Homo sapiens: one gene and its partners. The protein of the gene in region 1 purifies or fractionates together with the protein of each later gene. This does not show direct contact. Each region holds a gene or a part of one and is shown in the gene's direction. Other genes may lie near its edges.

The links. The genes of interacting proteins can lie anywhere in the genome.
Region 2: the proteins of CTSE (region 1) and CCNT1 purify together in Homo sapiens (affinity purification with mass spectrometry; 2 studies listed by BioGRID and IntAct, with this or other methods). This does not show direct contact.
Region 3: the proteins of CTSE (region 1) and MTMR6 purify together in Homo sapiens (affinity purification with mass spectrometry; 2 studies listed by BioGRID and IntAct, with this or other methods). This does not show direct contact.

Annotation. Positions count from the first base shown.
Region 1 is NC_000001.11:206,013,882-206,020,904, reverse strand, and holds part of CTSE (cathepsin E isoform a preproprotein), read left to right. Parts: intron 1-4,759; coding exon of another isoform or gene 4,760-4,774; coding exon 4,775-4,974; intron 4,975-7,010; coding exon 7,011-7,023. UniProt on the Homo sapiens protein: May have a role in immune function. Probably involved in the processing of antigenic peptides during MHC class II-mediated antigen presentation.
Region 2 is NC_000012.12:48,699,689-48,706,711, reverse strand, and holds part of CCNT1 (cyclin-T1), read left to right. Parts: intron 1-815; coding exon 816-944; intron 945-5,638; coding exon 5,639-5,699; intron 5,700-6,871; coding exon 6,872-6,934; intron 6,935-7,023. UniProt on the Homo sapiens protein: Regulatory subunit of the cyclin-dependent kinase pair (CDK9/cyclin-T1) complex, also called positive transcription elongation factor B (P-TEFb), which facilitates the transition from abortive to productive elongation by phosphorylating the CTD (C-terminal domain) of the large subunit of RNA polymerase II (RNA Pol II).
Region 3 is NC_000013.11:25,284,470-25,292,395, reverse strand, and holds the start of MTMR6 (phosphatidylinositol-3,5-bisphosphate 3-phosphatase MTMR6), read left to right. Parts: upstream 1-4,907; 5' UTR 4,908-5,148; coding exon 5,149-5,172; intron 5,173-7,926. UniProt on the Homo sapiens protein: Lipid phosphatase that specifically dephosphorylates the D-3 position of phosphatidylinositol 3-phosphate and phosphatidylinositol 3,5-bisphosphate, generating phosphatidylinositol and phosphatidylinositol 5-phosphate.

The DNA of each region.
Region 1 (7,023 bases):
CACCTGAGATGGTGGCAGTGGGTCAGTCTCCACAGCACGCTGGGCCCTGGGGGAGAGCAGCACAGGGGGACTCTGGCAGGAAGCAGTGCCCAGTGCACAAAGCCTGGTGGCAGGGTGCACAGCTGGATCTCCAGTCTCTAGGGCATTGAGGAGATAAAACCACGTCTCCGTCTTGAAGGATAAAGAAGTCCACACCAGGGGGAGAGATTTGGACTCAGTAACATAAGGGGGCAAGGTCTGAAATGGGAGTCCAATCACAGAGGCAAGGCAGAAGCCCAGTTGTCCAAAGGCCAAGGTCCAAACTGAACTCAGTGCTGAGCTCATGAGCTGTTCCTCAAACTCCCTCTGACCTCTGACCCTCTGACTCCCTCTGAAGTCCTATGGGTCCTAGAACTATGGGAATCAGACAAATGTGGGGACAGAGAGCCAGGTACTTTTTCAGGCTTATAGACAGCAATATATGCCTGGGCCTTGGGAGAAAGAGAGGTTGACCTACTCCTGGTGAACGTTGGTCCCTGGGGTATTCCCGAGGCCAGCAGGGCACAGCCTTCATCAACATCCCTTAGAGTGGGTGGAGTAGGACATATTATCAACTGAAAGAATGCCAGAAGCAGAAAAACACCATCTATGTAAAAATATCATACAGATAAAACAATGTACTGTATTTTCTATTGGAACTATGTATGCGTGTGTATACACACATTACATATATAATATATAATATATAATATCCATATATGAATATATGTAATATACAGTATATTTGTATATATAATATATATCCATCTGTATATATTATATAGATACAATATGTAACATATTAAAGTATATAATAATTGCATAATTATATCATATAATACATGTTATATATTATATAATTAATATAATATGTAATACATTACATTAATATATGTTATATAATATATAATATATTATAGAATATAATTGATATAATGTATTATATTAATAATATAGTATGTGTTATATAATATATTAATATGTTGTATGTAATAATATATTACATAATATATTATGTTAATCTATTATATAATAGATTAACCTATTATATAATAGATTAACATAATATATTACATAATATGTTAATCTATTATATAATAGATTAACACAATATATATGTAATGTGTATATATTATGTTATATATAAGATTCTATATATATTATGACATATACATATATATTATATATCTAATTACATATAATATATATATAAAAGTTAAAATGACTATTTTGAAGGCTACATCCCTAACTGATCATCACAGTAACCTCTGAGATGCAGGGAAGGGACTGAAATTAGCATAGAAAGGGGAATTCAAGCCTATAGCTTGTCACGTATCTGTTGGCTCACCTGGCTGGTGTAGGGCAGCAGCCAAGCCCACAGCAATGTCAGCTGCATTGCTCCTTCCCTCAGTTTTTCTGGCTCCAGGACCAGGTGTGCACTTACCTCTAACAAATCATCAGCTTTTGCTGCATAACATCCCCATCATTGAGGCTGGAGACTTGGGGACAGTGAGAGAACAATGTGGGTTCCAGTCCACCCTCACCCTCATGGGTTCCAACTGGCCCTTTTTCTCCCACTTGACATCTATCTTCCCTTTCTGCTGTGCAAACTGTAGACTGCTGCTGCAGCATCAGGACAGAAACAGTATCCTAAAGTACACTGTTTAACTAGCACCCACAGTTGCATATAATCAATATCTATATCCACATCATTATAGCTATATCTATAATCTATAGTACCTCCTAATGGTTCTGCTTCTCTTATCAAACCCTGACTGACATAATAAAGATATGACATGTGAAAATTTGTAGATGAAGCTGATGCAGCCCTTAAAGGGACCATTTAGCCTAAAATGCATGCGTTGTTAATAGAAATGCTAATGATCAATTATCTAAGCTCCTATTTCAAGAAATGAATAACAAGAAAATGAGCAAACCGTAAACAAACAATAGCAAATCAAACCCAAAGAAATCAAAAGGAAGGAAATAATAAAGAGTAGAATGGGACACAAATGAAATAGAGAAATCACACAGTACAGAAAATTAACAAAGCCAAGAATGAACTCTTTGCAAAGAGTAATAAAATTGGTTAGCCTCTCACATGACTAAATAAGAAAAAAGAAAGAAAATACAACTTAACAATGTTAGAAATGAGAAAGAGAACATTAGTAAAGTTATCAAGAATAATTTTATATTGATAAATTTTACAATTTTCAGAAAATCAACAAATGCCTTGAGAAATACAGCATACCAAAACTGATGCAAAAACAAAAAATAGAAAATGTGAATCTTTTAAAGATATACTCTGTTATTAAAAAATCTTTCCACAAAGAAAACTCCACGAAGAAAAGCCTCACTGATAAATTCTCTCAACACTAAAAAAAATCAGTCTTTCACAAACTCTTCCAGATATTTGACAAAGTAAAAACACTTTATAACTCATTTTATGAAACCAGCATAACTTTAATAATGAAACTTGAAAAGGACATTATAACAAAAGAAAATATAAAATTACAGACCAATCTCTTCTCTCATGAATATAGATGCAAAAGTTCTAAATGAAATACTAGCAAATAAAATCTTTTGGTATATAAAAAGATCATACCAAGGGTCATCTTTCCAGGAATTTATCATTTAACAGAATAAAAGGAGAAAAATCATATGACCAATATGATTATATTAGTAGGTTAATAACATTCAATATCTATTCATGACTTCAAGAAAAACTCTTAGCAAACTAGGAGTAGAAAGTAACTCCCTTAATCTGATAAAAATGAAGGACTTCATCTAAAAGAAGCCCACAGCAAACTTTATACTTAATGGTGAATTGTCGAGAGACTTCTCCATAAGATCAAGAATGAGACAAGGACACTCAATCTCACCACTTCTATTCAACATTGTACTGAAAATCCTAGCCAGTGCAACAAGGCAAGAAAAAAGAAATAAAGAACATTAAGATGGAAAAGGAAGAAATAACTCTGTCAATATTAATGTATGACAAGATTCCATAAGTAGAAAATCCAAAAATATCTACAGAAAGGATATTGGGATTAATATGTGAACTTAGCGAAGTTGCTGGATATGAGGTCAACATAAAAAAAATCATCTGGGGCCAGGCACAGTGGCTCACGCCTGTAATCCCAGCACTTTGGGAGGCCGAGGCAGGTGGATCATGAGGTCAGGAGTTTGAGACCAGCCTGACCAACATTTCTCTACTAAAAATACAAAAATTAGCCAGGCGTGGTGGCACACGCCTGTAGTCCCAGCTACTCAGGAGGCTGAGGCAGAAGAACTGCTTGAACCCAGGAGGTGGAGGTTGCAGTGAGCCAAGATCATGCCATGGCACTCCAGCCTGAGTGACAGAGTGAGACTCTGTCTCAAAAAAAATCATTTGGATTTATATATACAGGTTATGGATCCTTATCCCAAATGCTTGGGACCGGAAGCCTTTTAGATTTCAAATTTTTTCAGATTTTGAAATATTTGCATTATACTTACCAGTTTAGTATCCCAAATCTGAAAATCCATAATCTGTAATGCTCCAATGAGCATTTTCTTTGAGCCTCATGTTGGCACTCAAAAAGTTTTGGATTTTGAAGCACTTCAGTTTCAGATTTTCAGATTTGTGATGCTCAACCTGTAGCAAGTAAAACAAATGGCAAATAGATTTTTAATGACACTATTTATAATACTATCAAAACCATCAGCTACTTTGATGTAAATTTAACAAAAAATGTGCGAGAACTCTACTCTGATAATAGCAAACATTACTAAATAAAAGTAAAAGACTTGCATAAAAATCACAAACATTAATGAATAAAATTAAAAGAAGACCTGTATTGAAAACTAAACCATGCTCATAGATTGAATGACTCTGTTTCATTAAAAAGTCAAATTTTTTCAAATTGGTCTATACAACCAATTTTATTCCAATCAAAACAACAGCATTTTTTCTTAGACATTAGCAAACTGATTCTAACATTTATATGGATATGTAATACACCAATACAATCTTGCTGAAGAAAAACACTGGTAAATATTAAGATTTATTATAAAGTTACAGTAATGTAGACGTGTGGTGTTGGCACAGAATTTAAAAAATAAACAAATGTAACAGAACAGAAAATACAAAACTATCAACACAGTCATCTGACTTGCGTTGAACAAGATACTGCAGTATGTGGAGGAAATGATGGTATATTTATTAAATAGTGCCAGGTCATATGAATATCCAGATAGAAAAAAATAAATCTTAATTCCTACCTTACACATTATCACATTTCATATAGGTTCCAGATCGCAATGTGAAAAGTAAACAATAAAGCTTTTAGAAGAAAACATGAGAAAATGTTTTCATGACCTTAAGGTAGGCAAAATTTTCTGAAACAAGTTACAAAAAAACAGTGTACAATAAGCACATGATGAGTGACAGAAGCCAGATACCAAAGAGTTCATATGGGATGATTCCATTTATATAAAATCCAAAAAATAGGCAAAACCAATATATGTTATTAGAAGTCAGGAGACTGGCTCTTCTTGAGGAGGGGCGCAATGATTGGCAGGTGCATGAGGGCTTCTGAGGTTTGGAATGTCCTGTTTTTTGGGAATATAGCAAGCATCTTTGTGCTCATTTAGTCAAGGAAAGTTGGGAAGGAGAGGCATTAGCTTCAAGACAGAGGAAAATCCAGGAGTCAAACCCTTTGCCAGCAATCCCCTGTGCCATTCTCCTGTTCTCCTGTGGGCTTTCTCCTACCAGGTGGAAGGACTAACCGTGGTTGGCCAGCAGTTTGGAGAAAGTGTCACAGAGCCAGGCCAGACCTTTGTGGATGCAGAGTTTGATGGAATTCTGGGCCTGGGATACCCCTCCTTGGCTGTGGGAGGAGTGACTCCAGTATTTGACAACATGATGGCTCAGAACCTGGTGGACTTGCCGATGTTTTCTGTCTACATGAGCAGGTAAGGCCCATCAAGTCTGTGAGGTTAAAGTCAGTTATAACTACAGGGAGACAACACATACACTTGACTTAGCAGTCAAAAGACCTGGTTTAGGTAGCTTGGTCCATTACCAGCTGTGTGATCTTAGTCAAAACATTTAACCTCTCTGAATATTGAGGAAATGGGATTTGCTTCATCAAGTAGCTGTAAAAACACTTTGTAAACTCTACCACACTGGCTTAAATTTAAGGAATCTCTGGGATTGGTTCTTCATTGATGCTGTCACTAAATATCAAGCTCCTATTATATGCTGATTATGATGCTCACACTGGGGACCCAGTGAAACAAGAAAGACAGTACCTGCAGGAGGAGGAGGCAGAAAAAAATGAAAAGCTGACAATAAAATAATTGCATGCTGATGGATGAATAAACAAAATGTGGCATATCCAAATAATCAAATATTATTCAGCCTTAAAAAGGAAGAAAATTCTGAGACATGCTACAACATAGAAGAAACTTGAGGACATAATGCTAAGTGAAATAAGCTAGTCACAAAAAGACAAATACTGTATGATTCCACTTAGGTGAGGTACCTAGACTAGTCAAATTCATAGGCAGAAAGTAGACTGCCAGTTGCCAGAGCCTGGGGAGGGGAAGTGAGGAATTCTTAAACCGTTGTTGATGGCCTAATGGGTATAAAGTTCCAGTTCTGTAAAATGAAAGGTCTGGATTTTACAACAGTGTGAACATACTTAACACTACTGAATTGTAGACTCAAAAATGGGTAAGATAGTACATTTTATGTGACATATTTTTACAACAATTTTTAAAATTGCACATTGTTTTTGGAAAAGGTCATGAGGCTCACCTGTTTCTAGGCACTCTTGCCCGGCATCCTTGGAGGGTCATCTCCTCTTCCTCCTTACACAGGAAGGTGATTTCTGACCTTGCTGACTTTTTCCAGCTCAGACCTGGCCTGCGTTCACACTGTTTCAGCATAAGCCCATTCCTCTCATTCCCCTCTCCCACATGGAGGGTCCTGGATTTTCCCTATCAAGCTATGTTTCCTCTCCAGCATGACAGCACTCAGGACCAGGCCTAGGAAGAGCTGTGAGTAAGAGAGGCAAGTTGTCTAGACACCTCTGCTTCCCCTTGCAGAACTTCCTTCTCCCGTCGCCTGGGAAAAGTGGGCTGTAATGGAGAATATCAAGGCTTGGCAGTCAGACTGGCCTGGATTTGAATCCTGCCACTTACATTGCTTCATCTCACTGAGGCTCAGTTTCTTCCACGGACCACTAGGTTGATGTGAGTTAAATAAGTTTAGACAGATAAAATCCCCACTACACGGCCTTGCACCAAGGTAATCAACAAATGTGAGTTCCTTTCCCCACTCCCTCTGTAAAACCACTGTCCTAAAATTCCTACAGGTATTCACTCCTCTCCCTCTTTACCACCCTGATTTCAGTTTTGTATCTTTCTGATCCTTTTCCTCCTCAAAATGAATCTGTCTTAGGTCCTATTTCTCCAGAGTCCTGCTAGGTTCCAGAACATAATCTGAGAAATCAATACCAATGAAAATAAGTTTTCAGGCTCTAGTAAGTCATGATACATTCATATTAGCCTCTTTGCCTTAACATAAGGAGTGAATAACACAAAAACGCCAGGCACTGTCACAACCATAGTGGGGAAGATACTTTGGGAAAAGGTGTCTTTGGGGGTTGCTTCAAGCCACACAGTGTATACCCACCCAGGATGGTCCTGGCCTTGGTTCTGAATGACAGACCTGCTGGCCCCATTTCCCACCTCCTTAACCTTTTTATCCAAGAAGCAGAAACACATTCACAAATGGTCAAGGGGAGTTGTTTCTAACCTTGTGTCAAAAAGGCCCAGACCAATTCACTTGCAGTAGTCAGAGTCCCGGTCTCAAAGCCCAGACTGATGTTTCTGCCTACCTGTGTGCTTGGCATGAGACCAAGAAGCAAAGGGTCCTAGCTGAGGCTCACCCCTAGAGTTTTGCAGTGGCCCTTCCTGGACAGTTTGTCTTTCTCTCCATGTAGTAACCCAGAAGGT
Region 2 (7,023 bases), on another chromosome or scaffold:
TGGTGAAATACAGCTCTTAGCATTACTATCTTTGAGTCACTGAAATGTTCTTAATATTCAAGAAAAGTTCTATTTCCTGAAGTTTCCAAGATCACCAGGCTACATTTATGTCATATTGCTTTAATCTTTTATAAAGTTTGTTATCTACTTTTATATTGACTTCAATTTTTCCCTCTTAATGCTTTCTATAAATAATGTCTTGCATATAATGCCATGCTTTGTATTTTTGAAAGGTTCGATATGTATAAGTAATTGAGATATAATTCACGTACAATGAAATTCGTTTGTTTAAATTATATAGTTCACTGGTTTTTAGTATATGCGCAAAATTGTGCAACCATCAGCACAGTCTAATTGCAGAACATTTACATCACCCCAGAAAACTCCTCACCTATTAGCAGTTATTCCTATACTCCTCTCCCCGCAGCTCCTGGCAACCACTAAACTTTTTCTCTATATGGATTTGCGTATTCTGGACATTTCAGTTTACTCCTTAAAAAATGTATTGAGTGATTTGATACAAACTTAATAAAGAATCTCACTTTAAATAGAAAACTGTCTGCTTACATCTAGTAGCTTCTCCCATAGACAGCTTTTAATGACAGTTTGTCAAAGAATTGGTATTTGGAAGTGGAGATGGATTAATGGGTAGGAGAGGGGAAGATGGTAGAAGCGGGGGGGCGGGAAAGGGTAAAGAGGTGACAAAGTTGAGGCAAGCAAATAACTTGATTTGAGACTTAGCTCCTCTTTAGATCTACCTTACTCTATGAATGAATAAATTGATAATAAATATGATTTATTTTCTCTCCATTCAGTCTGTGGCTCCAGCAGCCTTGTTTCTAGCAGCTAAAGTGGAGGAGCAGCCCAAAAAATTGGAACATGTCATCAAGGTAGCACATACTTGTCTCCATCCTCAGGAATCCCTTCCTGATACTAGAAGTGAGGTAGGAGATTAATTACACATCTGTTTTTCTTAATTTTTTTCCTTTCTTTTTTTTTCCCTACTCCCAAGCATGCCTGGATCTTTATGTATTTCAATGCAACTTAATTTTATAACTTCGATTTATTGAAGTTTAGATTGGTGTTGTTAAAAGAATATTTTAGTGTTTGTGTTTTTCTTAACAGTAAGAAAATCAGGCCAGGTATGGTGGCTCACCATACCTGTAATCCTAGCACTTTGGGAGGGTAAGGTGGGAGAATCACTTTAGGCCAGAAGTTTAAGACCAACCTGGACAACATAGCAAGACCCTGTCTCTATATTTAAAAAAAAGAAAAAAAAAAGCCAGATGTGGTGGCTCATGCCTGTAATCCCAGCACTTTGGGAGGCTGAGGCAGGAGAATTGCTTGAGTCCAGTTCGAGACAAGCTCTGGCAACAAAGTGAGACCCCATTTCTACAAAAAAAGAAAAACAACAACAACAACAACAACAAAAAACAACTGGGCATGCTGGCTCACATCTTTAGTCCCAGCTACTTGGGAGACTGAGGTGGGAGGGTTGCTTGAGCATGGGATGTTGAGGCTGCAGTGAGCCATGATCACACCACTGCAGGCAACAGTGCCAGGACTCTGTCTGAAAAACAAAACACATAAATTTTATGGCGAAAGTTTTGTATTTGTTGCAGTAAAATTTGAAAATACAGAAAAATTCAAGAATAAAATATCTCTCAGATATATTCTAGACCAATGGTCCCAGACCTTTTTTGGCACCTGGGACTGGTTTCATGGGAGACAGTTTTTACATGGACAGGGGGTGGGGTTGGAGATGGTTTTGGGATGATTCAAGCACATTACATTTATTGTTCACTTTATTTCTATTATTGTTACATTGTTATACATAATGAAATAATTACGTAACTCACCATAACGTAGAATCAGTGGGAGCCCTGAGCATCTCTTTTTTTTTGAGACGGAATCTTGCTCTTGTCGCCAGGCTGGAGTGCAGTGGCGCAATCTCGGCTCACTGCAACCTCCACCTGCCGGTTTCAAGCGATTCTCCTGCCTCAGCCTCCTAAGTAGCTGGGACTACAGGTGTGCACCACCACACACAGCTAATTTTTGTATTTTTAGCAGAGACAGGGTTTCACCATGTTAGCCAGAATGGTCTCGATCTCTTGACCTTGTGATCTGCCCGCCTTGGCCTCCCACAGTGGTGGGATTACAGGCATGAGCCACTGTGCCCGGCCACCTTGAGGTGCTTTTCCTGCAACTAGATGGTCCCATCTGGGGGTGATGGGAGACAGTGACAGATCATCAGGCATTAGATTCTCATAAAGAGCAGCAAATTAGATCCCTTGCATGGGCAGTTCACCACAGGGTTCAAGTGCTCCTATAAGAATCTAATGCCACTGCTGATCAGACAAGAGGCAGTGCTCAGGTGGCAATATGTATGGTGGGGAGAGGCTATAAATACAGATGAAGCTTCACTCACTCGTACCTGCTGCTCAACTCCTGCTGTGTGGCCTAGTTCATAACAGGCCATGGACCCCCTGTTATATAGACAACTGAAGCACAGGTATACTAATGAACCACTGTTATTTGTGGCTTCTTTTCTATAGATAGCTATGTGTGCATGTATTTTGTCTCTGGTTTGTTTTCATTTGCTTACTATATCCCAAATATTTTCCCATCTGATGGATTCTCTACTTTTTAAAAATGTCTGGCTAGTATTTAATGATATATATGTGAATGTATGTATTTTTAACAATTCTCCATGAAGAAGTCTAGATAATTTCTAGCTTTTAAAATCACTATAAATGTTATGAAAAATATTCTTTTTTTTTTTTTTGGAGACAGGGTCTCATTCTGTTGCCCTGGCTGGAGTCCAGTAGTGTGATCATGGCTCACCGCGGCCTTGACCTTCCGGGCTCAGTGATCCCCCTGACCTCAGCATCCCGAGTAGCTGGGACTATAGGTGTGCGCCACCATGCCCAGCTAGTTTTTGTAGAGATGGGGTTTCACCATGTTGCCCAGGCTGCTCTCGACCTCCTGAGCTCAAGTAATTCGCCCACCTTGGCCTCCCAAGTGCTGGGATTACAGGCGTGAGCCACTGCACCTGGCTGAAAAATATTATTATACATTTTTATTATGGATCCTTAAATGAGTAGTTTCACTATTTTTTTTTTTTTTAACTTTTTTTTCGAGTTGGAGTTTTGCTCTTGTTGCCCAGGATTGAGTGCAATGGTGCAATCTCAGCCAACCGCAACCTCCCCCTCCTGGGTTCAAGCGATTTGCCTGCCTCAGCCTCCCGAGTAGCTGGGATTACAGGCATGTGCCACTACACCCGGCTAATTTTGTATTTTTAGTTGAAACGGGGTTTCTCCATGTTGGTCAGGCTGGTCTCGAACTCCTGACCTGAGGTTATCCACCTGCCTCAGCCTCCCAAAGTGCTGGGATTATAGGCGTGAGCCACCATGTCCAGCCAGCTTTGTTTTTTTTGAGACAGAATCTCGTTTTGTTGCCCAGGATAGAGTGCAGTGGCAAGATTGTAGCCAGGATGGTCTCGATCTCTTGACCTTGTGATCCGCCCGCCTTGGCCTCCCAAAGTGCTGGGATTACAGGTGTGAGCCACTGCACCCGGCCACCCTGAGCTTCTTTTCCTGCAACTAGATGGTCCCATCTACGGGTGATGGGAGACAGTGACAGATCATCAGGCATTAGATTCTCATAAAGAGCAGGTGATCATTTCACCTCAGCCTCCCAAGTTGCTAGGACTATAGCTGCGTGCCACCACTCCCAGTTAATTTTTATTTTTTTGTAGAGATAGGGGTCTTACCATGTTACCCAGGCTGGTCTTGAACTCTTGGCCTTCAAAGAATCCTCCCATACTGGCCTCCCAAAGTGTTAGAATTCCAGGTGTGAGCAACCATGCCTAGCTACATTTTTTTTTTCTTTTTTTGAGATGGAGTCTCGCTCTGTCACCCAGGCCGGAGTGCCGTGGTGCGATCTCAGCTCACTGCAACCTCCACCTCCCAGGTTCAAGAAATTCTCTGCCTCAGCCTCCTGAATAGCTGGGATTACTACCTGCATTCACTCTATGGAACAAGCCAAGGTTCACGCCCACCATCACACCCAGCTAATTTTTTAGTATTTTTAATAGAGACAGGGTTTCACCATATTGGCCAGGCTGATCTTGAACTCCTGACCTCGTGATACACCTGCTTTGGCCTCCCTAAGTGCTGGGATTACTGGCGTGAGCCACCGCACCCGGCCCATTCTTTATTTTTTAACTGTCTAAAAAATCCAGTGTATTTTATGGTTATAGCACGTTTCAATTTAGCTACATTTCAAGTGATGAATGGCTACATGTGGCTAGTGGCTATAGCTTTGGCTGGCACAAATCTGAGTGAATTTTCTTATTACCTTTTCCTTTGAACTCTTCTGTTACTTTTTAGAAACCTAACATGGCCCCAAAGGGGAAGTTCTAATAGGAGCCAAATGTTTGGTATTAAATGCTTACAGTACTGTAGGAAGGTTCTGCAAATGTATTTTGGTGATGTTGAAAAATATATACTTTATGGCCAGGCGCGGTGGCTCATGCCTGTAATCCTAGCAATTTGGGAGGCTGAGGCGGGTGGATCACCTGAGGTCAGGGGTTCAAGACCAGCTTTGCCAATATGGTGAAACCCCGTCTCTACTAAATATACAAAAACTAGCCGGGCGTGGTGGTGGGCTCCTGTAATCCCACCTACTCGGGAGGCTGAGGCAGGAGAATCGCTTGAACCTGGGAGGCAGAGGTTGCAGTGAGGCGAGGTCGCGCCACTGCACTCCAGCCTGAGCAGCAGAGCGAGACTCCCTCTCAAAAAAAAAGGCCGGGTGCGGTGGCTCACGCCTGTAATCCCAGCACTTTGGGAGGCCGAGGTGGGCGGATCATCTGAGGTTGGGGGTTTGAGACCAGCCTGACCAACATGGAGAAACCTCGTCTCTACTAAAAATACAAAATTAGCTGGGTGTGGTGGTGCATGCCTGTAATCCCAGCTACTCGGGAGGCTGAGGCAGGAGAATTGTTTGAACCGGGAGGCAGAGGTTGTGGTGAGCCGAGATTGTGCCATTGCACTCCAGCCTGGGCAACAAGAGCGAAACTCCAACTCAAAAAAAAAAGAAAAAAGAAAAGCAAAAAATACATACTTTTAATTTTCTTTTCTCTAAATCACATGAACCATAAAACTTAAATATTAACCTGAAAATGAACCAAATATATGGTGCTTTTTCTGTAGCCATATATAAACTGTTACCTCTCAGCATACTACTTATTTATTTATTTTTTAAAGAAAATGTGTACTGAATGGGCATAAGGGATAAAGATTGTATTTCACAAAAAAATTAGCCGGGCGTGGTGTTGCGCGCCTGGAATCTTAGCTACTTGGGAGGCTGAGGCAGGGGAATTGCTTGAACCAGGGAGGTGGAGGTTGCAGTGAGTCGAGATCACACCACTGCACTCCAGCCTGGGTGACAGAGGGAGACTCTGTCTAAAAAAAAAAAAAAAAAAAAAAAAAAAGATTGTATTTCAGTTCTTAACTCTACCTCCTAACTCCACTCATGCCTTTTATTGTTTTGGTTTCCCTGGAAGGGATTGTTAGAATTGTTTATACTTTATATATTGTGCCTTTGTAGGGAATAATTTCTGTCTTCTCACTTTTAGGCTTATTTGCAACAAGTTCAAGATCTGGTCATTTTAGAAAGCATAATTTTGCAGACTTTAGGTAAGTTTATTTTCCTTTGAAACATTTTTTTAAATTATGCAATAAAATGATTTGATTCTAAAAATTTGCTATATAGGAAGAATATTTCTTGGGAAAGTTTTTGTAGTGTCCCTCTGTTTCCAGATGATAGAGGTTGTAGACCTGAGTTTAGCTTTGACCTGTTCCATAGAGTGAATGCAGGTAGTACAGCTGACCTTTGAAACAGCAGCCAGTGGGTTATTATTTTTTTCATTCTAGGGTTATTTGCTTTTTAAGTTTTGGTGATTTTTACCCCCAAAAATTATAAAAACTATCTAAAGAATGTTTTTCCTTCCGTGGATTGTTATGGCCTGTAACAGCATTTGTTTTTAAAATTGGTAACTAGTGTTTAGAACAGCAGAGTGAAAGTGGGGGAACTTAAGCTTTAGTGGTTGCATGGGCAACTCTGATGATATTGTGTTATTATCTGTTATTTTCATCACACAGGCTGCCTTTAGAAGTTTAGAAAATATGAAAATACAGATTTTTTTTTTCCTGGTTCTTTTGGGCTATCATTTTTCTCTTCTAGGTAGGGTAAGATTTCATGAGTTGTACGTCAAAGTTATTGGCGTAGACACAATTTTTTTTGTACATATATATATATGATGAGTTCTTCAAAGTTTATCTCTCAATTTATTCTAGTTAACTTTTTTCTTTTTCTTTTTTTTTTTTTTTTGAGACGGAGTCTTGCTTTGTCGCCCAGGCTGGAGTGCAGTGGCACAATCTTGGCTCATTGCAACCTCCGCCTCCTGGGTGCACGCCATTCTCCTGCCTCAGCCTCCAGAGTAGCTGGGACTACAGGCGCCCGCCACCACGCCCAGCTAAATTTTTGTATTTTTAGTAGAGATAGGGTTTCACCGTGTTAGCCAGGATGGTCTTGATCTCCTGACCTTGTGATCCGCTCGCCTCGGCCTCCCAAAGTGCTGGGATTACAGGCTTGATCCACCGCGCCCAGCCTCTAGTTAACTTTTTTCTTAAAATATCTTCAAATTATATTTCATGGGACAATGATGTTTTTCTGGTGGAATAAATTTCTATTAATATTTTAGTGTGGAAACCAGTAAGGTGTAATTTACAATCAGTTATCCTTTTACAATAATTTGTAAAATGTAAACTTCTTAATAGTTTTTTAATCCATTACTTTTTCTTTTAAGGCTTTGAACTAACAATTGATCACCCACATACTCATGTAGTAAAGTGCACTCAACTTGTTCGAGGTAAGGAATCCCAGCTTATGAAGACTATCTCAAGCTGTTTTCCCATTTAGAGGTTGTGGTTTGTGGTGGACAATACATAATAGTTCTGC
Region 3 (7,926 bases), on another chromosome or scaffold:
CTTTATAGGAAGAGAACATGCTGACTTTCATTCCCATCTGCTTTCTTGTGGTCAATGATTACACTGGTATTTTGATATTCACCAGTCTAACTAACCCTAAAAACAAGTCTCTTCCTGATTATCTTCCTTCAGATTAGTTTGTAAGTTGCAGTGGACTACTCAATTGAATTGTAACAGTATTAAGTGTGCTCTTGGCATAATTGATGAGATCAGGCAGCAGAAAATGCTTAATCTGATGAATTTTATTGTATGTCAACATTTTTAAAGGGAAGGATAGGAATGTAGGAACACAGGTGCATATTGAATCCTCTGAAACTGGATCGTGTGCTTTATAAATATTACTAACAATAAAACAAATATTAGTGAATGAACCTCTTCTCTTTCCAATGTCTCTTCATTTCCCACCCCTTGTATTGAGGGGAAATGGGTCTCTTTGTTCCTTGCAGTAATCACCAAGGGGAGAGCTGGCAACAGAGAGGCAGATGGCCTGGATCATCTGGATCCTATATATGGTACCTGACTGGGGCTTCTACTCAGCTACTGCTGCTAACAGGACATCTGTTCCCAGAGCTCCCTGTGCCTTTCACATGCACAGGGTCTTCAAATAATGATGTAGGGACCCCCAACAAAAGTACCAAGCCCCTACCCCATCATTCAATAATGAAGCTTAACAATAGGCAAATTCTCCTATAAAGAGTAAGTTTCCAATCAGCATTTTATTGCTGGAAAGGACCATTAAAGATGATTAGATATTGGAGGATCGCTTCTGACATCAAAGTCAGAGACCAAAACAGCAAACGTAGAGAGAACCTAAAAGGAATAGGGTTCAGGAAGCAAAAATTACAAGAAATACATAAATAAATGAAAACTATTATTCACCTAGGAGAGATGAGCTCTTACATGTATCAGAGCAGGAGGCTAGAAAACAAATAAATGAACAAACTGAAAAACAAAGAAAAATAGGAAAATGTATGTAACCAAAAAGATCTCTTCACTTAGAAACAATAACATTCTAGTAGACAAACCTTGTGCTCAGATTTTGGATTCTTTTTTTTTCCAGTTAGGTCATCTTGGGTTCAGAACAGATCTTGGATTCTAATAACATTTTCCAATAAAAGGAACCAGGGCTCCTTGGGGAAATGGATGATTCTAGGGCTGGGGTGGGAAAGATGCAAGATGAGCCTGGAGCATCTTGTGGTATAGCATACCTGTATTCCCAGCTACTCAGAAGGCTGAGACAGGAAGGTTGCTTGAGCCCAGGAGTTTGAGGCTGTAGTGCACTATGATCACACCTATGAACAGCCACTGCACTCCAGCCTGGGCAATATAGCGAGACCTCATCTCTAAAAAATAAATAAATAAATAAAAATAAAGTCTATTTAAAGTGAAAACACTTAGAAATTAAAAATATAAGCCAGGCACAGTGGCTCATGCCTGTAATCCCAGCACTTTGGGAGGCAAACCTTGTGCTCAGTAGACAAAAAAGGAAGAAAAAGAAGAATCCAAGATCTGAGCACAAGGTTTGTCTACAATTATATATGTATGTGCATGTATATGTGTGTATATATATATACATACACATACATACACACATGTACATATATATAATTGCAGCAATTAAAAATATTAGAAATAATGGAGTATTCTAAAAATATTAGAAACAATGAAGTATTAAGAATTTCCTAGAGAGTAGATTAGAAAGGTAAATTCTTAAAAAATAGGAGTGAAAGAATAGTAAAATTAGGAAGTCAGACCAGGAATTTCTACTGAAAAAAGAAAGGGGCTGGGCACAGTGGCTCACATCTGTAATTCCAGCACTTTGGGAGGCTGAGGCAGGCAGATCACTTGAGCCCGAGAGTTTGAGACCAGCATGGGCAACATGGAAAAAACCCGTCTCTACAAAAAATACAAAAATTAGTCAGGCTTGGTGGTGCACGCCTGTAGTCCCAGTTACTCAGGAGGTTGAGGTGGGAAGATTGCTTGAACCTGAGGGGTTGAGGCTGTAGTGAGCTGAGATTGTGCCACTGCACTCCAACCTCAGTGACACAGTGAGACCCTGTCTCAAAAATAAATAAATAAAAATAAAACAAAATAAAAAGAAAGGAGAAAGGACAGGAGGGAAATAGGAAAGAAGAAAGATGAGGGAGAGAAGAGAGGTGAGAAGAATAAAAAAAATTTTTAAAGGGAAAAAAGAAAAAGGAAGAAGGAAAAAGAACGAAACAGTAATTATTACAGAAATAATACAAGAAAATGTCCCAGAATTGAAGGACTTATGTTTTCAGATTACAGAGCTCAAAACACTGGGCAGAAAAATAAACAAGAAAGCTAAGTTTTATTATGTTGAAATTTTAGACCATTGGAGATAAAGAGATCCAAAAAGCATCCTGAGAAAGTAGAAGCGACACCTAAAGGGAAATCGGAATGCCAGCGGATTTCTGAACAACTGCATTGAAAGTCAGGATATGTCTCTGGGAGCTTTCAAAATCCTAATTAAAATTACAGAATTCTAGACCTAGCCAAACTTCCCGTCAAGGATTTATGCTCCATTCACCCTTTCTCAGGAAGTTAATACAGAATATACTACATCAGAATAAAACAATGCAAGTAAGTAAATCAAGAAAGATAAACCACAGGATCTAAAAATTCAGCACAAGTAACCAACACATTTCTCAGGCCCATGGTGAGGAGAGTCCCAGGATAATATCCATTCAGTAGGCTCAGAGAACACAAGTGCAAACTGGAGCAAAAGGAGAAAAGGCTCCTAGAAGCATCTGGAGACCTCTAAAGAGATGTCTCGAGGAAAGATAATGGAACTGAGTGATTGCCAGATTTAACCATAAGGAATATTCTATCTAGTGCAAGAGTATTCAACTCAAGAGTCAAAGAAACGTCATTTAATATTTTATCTGTTATTTTACTTTCTTTCTGTAAAGCTAGGTAATTTTCTAGCCTATCATATTAACATAAATAGAACTTTAATATGGATTTTGAGAAGCAAATCAATGTAAAACAGTTGTTAAGAATACAGACTCTGAAGTCAGCCTGTCTGGCTTTATAACATGGATCTTGGCTTTATCTGCTATGTGATATTGGGCAAGTTACTTCACTTCATTGTGTCTCGCTTGTCTCATCTCTAAAATAAAGAAAGCAATAGCATTTTCCTCAGAATACCCGTAAAGCACTCAGTACATTTGGTCACCTGACATCATTATGATTGCCTCTCTGTGAGAATTGGTAAAGAGAGGACACAGGAAGTGAGGAGATGAGAAGAGGGAGGATAATCTGTAGGGGAATGGGGAAGGAGGAAGTTGTAAATTGGGAGGAAAATGATATAAAAAGTTTTGTTAAGAAAGTCTTGCTGTATGCTATACAATTCACCTCTTTCTGTTTTCTCAAAAAGCAATCCTCAGTAAAGACCTACATTACTTTTCTCTCTCTCTATATATATATATATGTGTATATATATATATATGTATATATATATATATATATATGTGTATATATATATATATATATATTTTTTTTTTTTTCTGAGCAGGATTTGTGGGGTTTTTTTTCGGGGGGAGGGGGTGGATGTGATACTGTACTAAGGTTGGTTTCTAGGTGGTTTAATGTAACTCTTATTACATATTTAGCTTAGAGGAGTCAGCAACTCCACCGCAAAGGCTGTTGTGTTTAATAACCATCTCCATTGCTTTGGCAATCTGTCTGAAACATCGTAGGCACTCAAAACAAAACAAACCAAGACAACTTGAACAAAATGAAACAAATAAGTGAAACAAAATTTTTAATTATAAAAGAAAATTTAGATGTTAGGCTTTTCTAACACCAATCACAGTATGAAAGATGAAGATTACAAACCTTAACCGGCTTAGTACAGAATACTTACAAAACGTAGAGCAGAGTTTCTCGGACTCTAACTCCTGACCTCAAGTGATCCGCCCGCCTCAGCCTCCCAAAGTTCTGGGATTACAGGCGTGAACCACCGCGCCTGGCATAGAGCAGGGTTTCTCAACCTCTGCACTGTTGTCATCTGCCGGATAATTCCCTGTAGTTGGGGGGTTGGTCTGGTGCCTAGTAGGGTGTTCAGCAGCCGACTTGTGACTTGGCCTCCACCCACCAGTTGCCCCCCGCCGCCACCCCCCCACCACCACCATTTGAGACAACCAAAAATATCTCCAGATGTTACCAAATGTCCCCCGGGGAGAAAACTCACTCCAGGCTGAGAAGTACCACATTAGACGTGTTCTAACAAAAATTACCTGTAACCCTCACCTAGAAATGTAAACTTTTTGTTTACATAAATAAAAATTACAGAGCACGGCTACATTGAACTTATTGTTCCATAGTCAGTTTTTTCTTCACTCAGTAATGCAGCATTAACATTTTCGTTATGTGATATCCCTCTACAGGATGAGTTTTAATGGATGCTGGTGCTAACATCGTATGAAATTGAGGTAGGAGGCGGGACTCTGACACCAGACCAGATTGAGGACTAGCTAATCATCATACTTTACATAAGGAATCCGTAGGATTGGAGAGTTGATTGTTTCAAATAAGGCTGGTTTCCTTATTTGGTTATTTCCTTAGAATAATAACTCCAAATCTGATTATTTCCTTAGAATACATTCTTATGAGTAGAACTGCAGCTCAAACTAAATTTGGTGCTGTCCAGTGGTATGGCGATGGACTTCAGAACATCCTCCACTCTTGCCCTCACCCCACAAGAACCCTTTACTCGGGATCCATTCTCACGCAGTCTTCCTCCCCGACCGCCCCGCGCGTCCGCTCGGCGGGATGACAAAGACCGCCTCGGGTGGGGTGGTGAGCAGTACCGGCCTCCTCCAGCAGGGGGCGCTGTGGGATCCGCCGCTGTCCGGGACGAACCAGCAAGCCGCTCTCGGTCCACACACGCTCTGTCTGCCTGCCCCGAGTCCCCCGGGAGGCCGCGGGGTTTGGGGAAGTGTTTCTAGGAGACGGCGCTCACCGGCTGCACCTGCGCCGTTGACGCCACCGGGGCCGGCAGACAGACCCGCGGCGCTGGCTGGTGGAGGGAGTTCCCGCTTGCTCTCTGTCGCTGTCACCGCCCTGTTTCTGTAGCCGTATGGTACGCCTGTGAGACCGGCTGCCGGCTGACGTCTCCTTGCGATGGAGCATATCCGGACGACCAAGGTAGTCGGGCGCGGGATCGCCAGTCTTCAGGGGCCCTGCTCTGACCCGGCTGAGGCAGGAGGAGACGAAGGCTCTGCTGGCCTGACTGGGGCTGGGAGCCGGCCCGGCGGAGACCCGGCCCGGGGCGGGAGGGTCTGGCCAGGCCTGGTCTGGGAGGGCAGGGTTAGCTTGGGCCAAGCGGGGTGCAGAGGCCTCCTGTACCTACAGGAGCAGGGGTCCCACTTTCAGCATCTTGGAGTGCGTAGAGATAAGTCTGGGAAAACTGGTCACCGCCCTCCTAGCTCTACGTTTTCTCGGGCAAAATTGGGGCTCCTTTAACTTTGGAGTCTTTCAGCCTTTCGTTGCCTCATCAACCGGAAAACCGTCTTCAAATTAACATTATGATGCTGTGTAAGCTTGTCCTTGCTCACATTTCATTGTCCCGTGTCACAGATTCACAGTACGAGTTTTGGAGGAACCGAGATCAGCACTCCGCTCCACCTCCCTTTGCTGTCTCGGTCTCCAGTCTTTCGCATCCGGTGTTTCCGTGTCTGTGCTTCATACTTCAGGCATTGTCCTGTGTCAGTAGTCAAGAGTTCTGGAGAAGGGAAAAATGTTATTCCATATTTTAAAAGGTCGGATGCAGCTTTATTCGATTGACCTTATTGCACTCCATGCTTAATTTTTGTGTGTGGAAGACCTTCATTTTGAGAACGAACAAATATTTTTATTTCGTTACAAATTTAAAAACGGAAGGAAATGACATCAGAATGTTACCAAATTACGTTTCCAACGACATTTAAGTTTAACTTTGAGAGGGAGAAAAACATAAATCGAGACGAGAAGAATAACATTTTAAAATCACTGCGAGCCCACTGCAAGGCAGCCTCTTGACGTTTTGGCAAAGCTGAAGCCCTTTAGTTGCTGCCCATCTTAAAATTACGGCTCATTTAGGGAACCACAGATGTTCGTTATCTTCATTGTTCCAAGAAGAATTTGTGTTTTTAAAAATTTTTTAAATGTTTCACAAACCTTTTAAAGGTATACATAAATTTTTATTGGAGCTTGTCTTTAACATTGTGCATACCGTATCTAGTAAAATTGAAGATTCTGAAAACTAACCCCTTAACATTTTTTTTTAAGAGAAGAAAGATAAAATAACTTGAGAATTCAAGTTGTGGGTACTTAAATTTTGAAAATGGAAGGGTGCTTAAGTCTATAACCAAACTCGTAGAAGGTGCACAGAGGAAAAGAGGACTAGAGTGGACATTGGATCAGGTTCTTGTATTGGTTCCAGATATGTATTATGTAGTAGCTAAGTGCACGTGACTTCCTTCTGCATCAGTTCGAAGCTCCTCTATTTTTCATATGCTTTCTACGGTGCATAGCACACAATCGAAAACCGGTAAAAGGCTGGGCACGGTGGCTCACGCCTGTAATCCCAGCACTGTGGGAGGCCGAGGTGGGCGGATCACTTGAGGTAAGGAGTTCGAGACCAGCCTGGACAACCTGGCAAAACCCCATATCTACTAAAAATACAAAAATTAGCCGGGCATGGTGGCAGGCGCCTGTAATCCCAGCTACTCAGAGGCTGAGGCAGGAGAATTGCTTCAACCGGGGAAGTGGAGATTGCAGTGAGCCAAGATGGCACCAGTGCACTCCAGCCTGGGCAATAGAGCGGGACTCAGTCTCAAAAAAAAAAAAGAAAGCCGGGTGGGGTGGTATGTACCTGTAGTCCCAGCTACTCGGGAGGCTGAGATGGGAGGATGGCTTGAGCCCACGAAGTGGAGGTTGCAGTGAGCCAAGATTGCGCCATTGCCCTCCAGCCTGGGTGACATAATTGGGGGGGGGGGGGCGGAAAAGAATAAAAAATCAGTAAAAGTAAACTGAATCTGATCAACTAGAGCAAATCCTATTCTTAGGTGGATGATAAGAGTGAACAGACTTGGAAAATATTTAGGATCCCTTGGTTATTTTAAATCTTTCCTCATTCAATTTATTATGAATATATATCTTTGTTTTTATTTGTAGAGTTGTAGCCCCTCTTATTAGCTCTTTGAAAGTTGTCACTGGTGACTTTCATTTTGTCTGATATTCCTCCTTATCTACCAACTGATGAACTTTTCTTCAAGTAATGCTCTGATTTTGACTTATCTTTACACAGTGGTCTCATGCTAGTGGTTTAATAAGGCCTTTTTAGAGACTAAGAAATTTCTGATGAATTGTCTATTAAAACTACTTTTCAAATATGCTCCTTTATTACTTTGGGTTGTTTTTCTAGTATTGGATCACTACTCTGGAGTAATATTAAGTGAGTGTATGTAGACCGCAAATAAATATTTTCTAGGTACCTAGTATGTGCCAGACACTGTATTGACACTGGGTATATAACAGCAAGATAGAGGTGGACCTCAGGGTACATTCTGTTAATTGTTGTGGGGACTGTAACATGTTCTTAAATTATTAATGTATTGGGAAATAACTTACTTTTAAAAGATTGGTTTGAACATAGCCAAACTTTTGTTTCCATTATGCATAGCCTTCACCTGGATTTAGTTAGTTTGCTGCAAAAATAAGTGTAAGTATTTAAAAAGCAAAAGTGGATTGTTTTAGATTTATTAGCTGTTTTGACCTCTATGTAGTTTAGTCATTAGGATCAAAATTGACCGTAGAGTGTCCTTTATGACTATTTAGTGATTTTTGTTGTTCAGTCAGCTCTATTTGAAAAGTAATAATTACCATTTATTGAGCAACTATATGTCAATATAGCCAATT